2 linked regions of the Homo sapiens genome follow. Changing the gene in region 1 together with any one later gene gives a genetic interaction. Each region holds a gene or a part of one and is shown in the gene's direction. Other genes may lie near its edges.

Region 1 (3,976 bases):
AGGATGAAATGAGATAATATGGCCAATGTGCATGTCACAATCTTCAATAAATGTTTAAAGTCTAAAAAGCAAGCCAGACTTTAAATATAGTAAGGATATTAGGTTGTCCCAGTGGTGTTAGTCAGTCAGTTTAGGTTGCCATGAGAATTAAGATCCTGAGCACTGGCCAGCTTGTATCAGATCATAGGGGCCTCCAGGAACCTCCAAATGCTGATGGTAATTCTAAAACCGCCTCAGATAGTCTTAAACTGGACCCTCACACCAAACCTAAAATATTTCCCTAATCTATGTTTAGCTGCAGAAACAAGAGGAGGTAGGAGGAGAAGAGCTGCAGTTTCCAAACACCACTGCTTGCAACCTTCCTACCACATGAATGTTCAAGGAGTTACATTTGACATCATTGCTTGATCGGAATCTACCAAGCAATTTCCACTGCACCAGCCAGTCTCTTGGGAAAGTACTATCAGATTTGCCAGAGTAAATTATTGAGATTGTTAACTCTCATGTGGACATGGATAGTTAATGATGAAAAGAAATGAACTATAAAATTGCATCACAGAATTTACTGTGTAAACTTTTCAAACCATTTGTGCCATTAAATAGCGCCCCCACCAAAAAAAAAAAAAAAAAAAAAAAGCCTATCCTTAGGATAGGCAGCTGATGTAGCTGGATGGTGGGGGCTCTAGGTGGCCACGTTCTATCTGTGTTTATATGGTTAAATGGATGAAATGGATGTGTTTGCAGATTGAAACAATTCATAAAGAGTTGAGGCTACTTTTTTTTTTTTTTTTTTTTGGTCTTAGCGCTGAAACTAAAAATCGCGGTTATTTTAGTGTTTAGCCCCGGCTCTTCCGTTGCTCAAACCTCCGGAAACTACATCTCCCAGCATGCTGTGAAACTGGTCTGACTTCATCTCAAATGGCCCCGTAGGGCAACAAGGATGGTTAGTTTTGACCCTACTTATTTGTGCCATAAAAACAATCGATCCTAATTGACAGCTATTTGGACTTTTACATCTGCCAAACCCTTTTCCTTGAACTGTGGTCACTAAATGAGGGGAGTCTGGTCTGGGAAGTCCCATCCATTCCTTCAATAGGATGGGGAGCGGTGATAGTGTCTCCGGCGATCTCAAGAATAGGAGGGAATGTTGACCAGGGAGCACCGCTGCGGCCGATCAGAGGAGCAGGAACTGGAACCCTGGCCGAGTCCGAAAAAAGCCAGATCTGGAAGGTGGCTGCGGAACGGTTTTAAGCGGAAGATGGAGGAGCCGGAGGAACCGGCGGACAGTGGGCAGTCGCTGGTCCCGGTTTATATCTATAGTCCCGAGTATGTCAGTATGTGTGACTCCCTGGCCAAGATCCCCAAACGGGTAAGGGAAGTCGGGATGAAAGACCATGGGCTTTGGGGGTGGGGGTGGGGGCGGTGGACGAAAGAGCGTTAGGAAGCGGAGAGGACACTGGGCTGGGGGAAATCTTCAGAAATTTCGAGTAGCTGTATCAGATACCTAAAGCTGTATCAGAAGGAAGTGTTCTCATATCGTTTCTGAGAGCGCAGCATGTCTCTTCGGGACGTCCAATGGACAGGTAGGAGTGGGGGAGGGGGTACGGAGGAGGGGAGAGGACGCAGTTTCCACTCATAGGGGACCGCTGAAGTCGTGGGAAAACAAGCTGCAGGGGGAAGGTGTTCCATCACCTGCCTAAGGCCCGGTAGCTTTCACCTTAGTGATTTTGATACTTTGTATCTGTATTGTCTAAAGTGTATTGTAACTGTTAACAGAAGGGAAGCCAGTTGAAACAAAATTAATCCGTTCCTTTGTTCAGGATGGTGAGATTGACGGGGATTTTGCTGAATTAAACTTTAAAGAGACTATTTCTGCTTTTCTTTTTTTTTTTTTACGCTGATGTTTTTAGGCCAGTATGGTGCATTCTTTGATTGAAGCATATGCACTGCATAAGCAGATGAGGTAAGTTGTCTTTCTTGAACATAGCCCTGAAGCTAGGTGTTCGTAGCCTTAATATCCTGCTTCACAGTGGGGCAAGGAAAAGAATGGTCTTTTGAAAAAATTATTTTAGCTTTCTGTGAAAGTATTCACAGTGTTTGTAATCTGCCTGTAATCCCAAGAAAGCTCTTGAAGAATTAAGAAAACTTGGGGGGCCGAGAGCATGGCTCACGCCTGTAATCCCAGCACTTTGGGAGGCCTAGGTGGGTGGATCGCCTGAGGTCAGTAATTTGAGACCAGCCTGCCCAACATGGCAAAACCCCGTCTCTACTAAAAATACAAAAAAATTAGCCGGACGTGGTAGCGGGCGCCTGTAATCCCAGCTACTCGGGAGGCTGAGGCAGGAGAATCGCTTGAACCCCGGAGGTGAAGGTTGCAGTGAGCCGAGATTGCACCATTGCACTGCAGCCTGGGCAACAAGAGTGAAACTCCGTCTCAAAAAAAAAAAAAAAAAAAAAAAAAAAAAAGAAAGAAAGAAAGAAAAAGAAAAGAAAACTTGGGACAGGGGAGTGGAAAGTGCAGGAAGCAGTTAAGGTTCATTAGAAATACAGCTCGATTGCTTGGTTAAGTATCCCAGGGGTAGGTGCAGTGCATTGTGGAGATTTTGAGTACATTTGGGTATTAAAACCTGTCTCATACAAAAAGGTGTTCAGCTAGGAGGTGTTCCATTTTTCTTTTGATTTCGTTTCATTCTAAGCCAGATTTGAGGGTGTGAGTTCAACCTAAGACTTTTAGACAACCCACCACCAGCACCAAACTTTAATGGGTGAGGCTGGAGACAGATCAAGACCAAAGAAGGCCGGGCGTGGTGGCTCACGCCTGTAATCCTAGTACTTTGGGAGGCTGAGGCAGGCGGATCATGAGCTCAGGAGATCAAGACCATCCTGGCTAACACGGTGAAACCCCGTCTCTACTAAAAATACAAAAAATTAGCCGGGCGTGGTGGCAGGCGCCTGTAGTCCCAGCTACTCGGGAGGCTGAGGCAGGAGAATGGTGTGAACCCGAGAGGCGGAGCTTGCAGTGAGCCGAGATTGCGCCACTGCACCCCAGCCTGGGTGACAGAGTGAGACTCCGTCTCAAAAAACAAACAAACAAAAAAGACCAAAGAAAACTGCCAAGACTGCGCCAGAACTCAAGAGAGAGCTAACTGTTTCTTCCAAAAACATGAACTTGCTGTTTATTGCCATTTCTGTATTTGATGTCGTTATAAGAGCAAATATAACCCTGCCACATATAGGATTACTTATGACAATTTCTGGCCAAATAGGTGAGTGCTCATACCAACTAGTGTGCTATGCTTCATTTATCTCCCAGAAGGTAGTGTAATAATAGGCTTTCAGATTTTATCCTTATTATTAACAAAATCATTTTGTACCTTTTAAAGGGAATTTTTAAGCCTTTTTTTTTTTTTTTTGATGGAGTCTTGCTTTGTCGCGCAGGCTGGAGTGCAGTGGCGCGATCTCGGCTCATTGCAACCTCCGCCTCCCAGGTTCAAGCGATTCTCCTGCCTCAGCCTCCCGAGTAGCTGGGACTACAGGCACGTGTCACCACACCCATTTTAAGCCATTTTTTAACCCATATGGTTTGGTTAACATAGTAACTATATGCCTTCCATTAAAGTTATTTAACATTTCAAAAAATTATTTTATGACAAACAAGATATCAAAGCAAAGCAAAACTGTCCAGTTTGCTTACTGTTAAATAGGGAGGTTTTCAGTAAGTGTTTTTTAACATTTACCAAAATAAATGGAAGGGTACTAGAAGAGGGAGCTTTTAGGACTGGGAAATACGGTCCGAGATATTACAAAATTTTTATTTTAATGGGTAGATTTTTCACCTCTGGTGGTATAGATTTGTCTTCTTTAAGAAGAAGCAAGAATTCTTGGGTCTTGGCTATGTATTTCACTTTTGAGGCCAAACCACAGGATTTCTTCCAGCTACCTTGGTGATAGTAGTAGCCTGTATAGTCGTATTCAT
Region 2 (3,500 bases), on another chromosome or scaffold:
CTGACTCAGGATATTTCTTCTCTGAGATTCCATTGCACTTAATGAAGATCACAAATCCCATAACTGTTTATTGTTTTGTTGCCCCAACTACGATGTTTCTTGAACGGATGGACCTTTTTCCTTCCAGCATTTGGCAGAGTTCTTAATACCATTTTCATGTTAAAATGGATTGTGAGGGCCTGTGTTAAAATGGGAGCAGTGACAGCCCTGTTCCACTGTAATGTGGCAGCATCTTCTTTTTGAGTTAGACCTTAAAGATTTAGGTGTGCTATAGTCACATTTAACTGTTCATTTAAATTTTAGTGCTGCCAGAGTTGCAAAGGAAGAAAAATTTGTTAGTTTCTTAGATGAAAATGGATGGTTTTGACTGGGTACGGTGGCCCACGCCTGTAATCTCTGCACTTTGGGAGGCCCAGGCAGGGGGATCACCTGAGGTCAGGAGTTTGAGACCAGCCTGGCTAACATGATAAAATGTTTAGCTCTACTAAAAATACAAAAAATTAGCTGGGAGTGGTGGCACACGCCTATAATCCTAGCTACTCAGGAGGCTGAGGCAGGAGAATAGCTTCAACCCGGGAGGCGGAGGCTGCAGTGAACTGAGATTGCGCCACTGCACTCCAGCCTGGTCAACAAGAGCATCAACTCCGTCACATACACAAAAAAAGAAAATGGATGGTTTTGCCCTTTTAATTCTGGAATAGTAGCCACAGTACTGGGGGAAAACCTAGTCTAGTTAGGAATTGTGTCACAGTAAGTTGACTTTATCTGGTTATATATGTGTCAGGTAGTTAGGTATAATGATGCTTAAGATTTTGGACTCTTTTTTTTTTTTTTTTTTTTTTTTTTTTTGAGATGGAGTTTCACTCTTGTTGCCCGGGCTGGAGTGCAATGGCACATGCTTGGCTCACTGAAACCTCCGTCTCCTGGGTTCAAGCGATTTTCCTGCTTCAGCCTCCCCAGTAGCTGGGATTACAGGTGTCCGCTTACACGCCCAGCTAGAACTTTATTTTCTTAATCTGTTAGGTTTTTTCTTCATTATTTCCTTAGTAGTGTACCTAAGTTAAGATAGTGTTTTTAGATCTCACTGTTTTACAGCATTCTGACTGCACTGGAGTTTCATTTGAGCCATTACTATTAATTTATTAACATTCAGTATAGGATATATGTATTATACAATGTAAGTGAGTTTTATCTACCAGAAGAATGTCTCTTAACCATCTCCCTTCAGTAAATTTTTATGGTAAGACTGTGCTGTATTAGTTCCAGCCAACCAGGGTAATTGACTATAAAGGCAACTAATTTGGTGTTACATCCTTCTTTTTTTTTTTTTTTTGAGATGGAGTCTTGCTCTGTCTCCCAGACTGGCTGGATGTGATCTCCGCTCACTGCAACCTCCGCCCCCTGGGTTCAAGCGATTCTCCTGCCTTAGCCTCCCAAGTAGCTGGGATTACAGGTGCTGGCCACCACGCCTGGCTAATTTTTTTGTAATTTTAGTAGAGATGGGGTTTCACCATGTTGGCTAGGCTGGTCTTGAACTCTTGACTTCAGGTGATCCACCCACCTTGGCCTCCCAAATTGCTGGGACTAACAGGCGTGTACCACCACGCCCAGCTAATTTTTGTATTTTTAGTAGAGATGGGATATCACCTTGTTGGCCAGGCTGGTCTTGAACCTCTGGGCCTTGTTATCTGCCCACCTCGGCTTCCCAGAGTGCTGGGATTATAGGCGTGAGCCACCACACCTGGCCTGAAATTGTTATTTCTTATTTTTATTTTGAGACAAAGACTCATTCTGTTGCCTAAGCTGGAGTGCAGTGGCATGATCTTGGCTCACTGCAATCTCCACCTCCTGGGTTCAAGCGATTCTACTGCCTCAGCCTCCTGAGTAGCTGGGACTACAGGAACGTGCCACCATGCCCGGCTAATTTTTTTGTATTTTTAGTAGAGATAGGGTTTCGTTATGTTGGCCAGGCTGGTCTTGAACCCCTGACCTCGTGATCCACCCGCCTCGGCCTCCCCAAGTGCTGGGATTACAGGCGTGAGCCACCGCACCCGCCCAAAATTTTTAATATTTATGTATAGAATGTAAGCTTTTCAGCATGATTTTGAATCAAACAAAATGAGTTAGATTGAAAGCTCTGCTTTCTGAGAGCTTAGATTTGTAACTCAGAATTAGTGTGGACTGTAAGGATCATGCTGAAAGGTTAATACATTTTGGTAAACATAGAGTACCCAGATTCAGGAGATTTATGTGAAATGAATAGGTTTGAGGGATGAGGGAGGAGGAATACCTGTTGAACATTTAAACTGTGAAGTTTGCCACCTATTTTCCCCTTTATTGAAGGTTTCAGGAGGTAGAATTTAAAAAAACAAAACTCTGGGCTGCAAGGGTCAGAGATGGTCATTACGGTATCTTAATAGAGTAATTTCTTTTTTTTGACGGAGGTTTGCTCTTGTTGCCCAGGCTGGAGTGCAATGGCGCAATTTTGGCTCACTGCACCCTCCACCTCCCAGGTTCAAGCAGTTCTCCTGCCTCAGCCTTCTGAGTAGCTGGGATTACAGGCATGTGCCACCACACCTACCTAATTTTGTATTTTTAGTAGAGATGGAGTTTCGCCATGTTGGCCAGGCTGGTTTGAACCTCTGACCTCAGGTGATCTGCCCACCTTGGCCTCCCAAAGTGCTGGTGGGATTACAGGTGTGAGCCACTGTGCCTGGACAGTAATTCTTTTTTATATGAAATTGTATTCTCTGGGCCGGGCACGGTGGCTGATGCCTGTAATCCCAGCACTTTGGGAGGCCGAGGTGGGTGGATCACGAGGTCAGGAGTTCGAGACCAGCCTGACCAACATGGTAAAACCCCGTCTCTACTAAAAATACAGAAATTAGCCGGGTGTGGTGGCATGTGCCTGTAATCCCAGCTACCTGTTAGCCTGAACCTGGGAGGTGGAGGTTGCCATGAGCTGAGATCGTGCCACTGTATTCCTGCCTGGGCAATAGAGCGAGACTCCATCTCAAAAAAAAAAAAAAAAAAAAAAAAGGAAATTGTACTCTGGACTCTCAAGCTTTTTTTTTTTTCTTTTTAAATGTTTAAAAATTTTAATTACCTTAAAATGGTGGATTTTTTTTTAACTTTTTAATAAACTAGGTGTCAGTCTATTTGATATCTTCGGTATTTTGTCTGAGATCGGATGTGGAATCAATAAGTGCTTTTTTTCCTGATAACCTTTTGTGTTTCTCTTTTCTTCTCATTGTGTCTTTTTCAGCACAGTGGAGAGCGGGACATTGTAAAGAGACATTCAGTGACTCAGTTTTTGAGTGGATGCTTTTGTTTTTTGTTCTTAGTTTGCATCTGCTTGAATGGGGTAGCATTTTAACATGGGTCTAATATTAAGCAAACAAGTATTTTTAAACCAATTCTTTGTAAAGCCATGGTTACATGAGTAAATCACTTAGCTTCTATAAATGTCTATTAAGATGATCAGATGAAATGTTACCTGA

Evidence for each region. A genetic interaction does not mean that the proteins touch.
Region 2: changes in HDAC8 (region 1) and TBL1XR1 together harm fitness less than expected from each alone (positive genetic interaction), as found in Homo sapiens cells (one large-scale study listed by BioGRID).

Annotation. Positions count from the first base shown.
Region 1 is NC_000023.11:72,570,044-72,574,019, reverse strand, and holds the start of HDAC8 (histone deacetylase 8), read left to right. Parts: upstream 1-1,176; 5' UTR 1,177-1,258; coding exon 1,259-1,369; intron 1,370-1,910; coding exon 1,911-1,963; intron 1,964-3,976. UniProt on the Homo sapiens protein: Histone deacetylase that catalyzes the deacetylation of lysine residues on the N-terminal part of the core histones (H2A, H2B, H3 and H4).
Region 2 is NC_000003.12:177,187,483-177,190,982, reverse strand, and holds part of TBL1XR1 (F-box-like/WD repeat-containing protein TBL1XR1), read left to right. Parts: intron 1-3,500. UniProt on the Homo sapiens protein: F-box-like protein involved in the recruitment of the ubiquitin/19S proteasome complex to nuclear receptor-regulated transcription units. Plays an essential role in transcription activation mediated by nuclear receptors.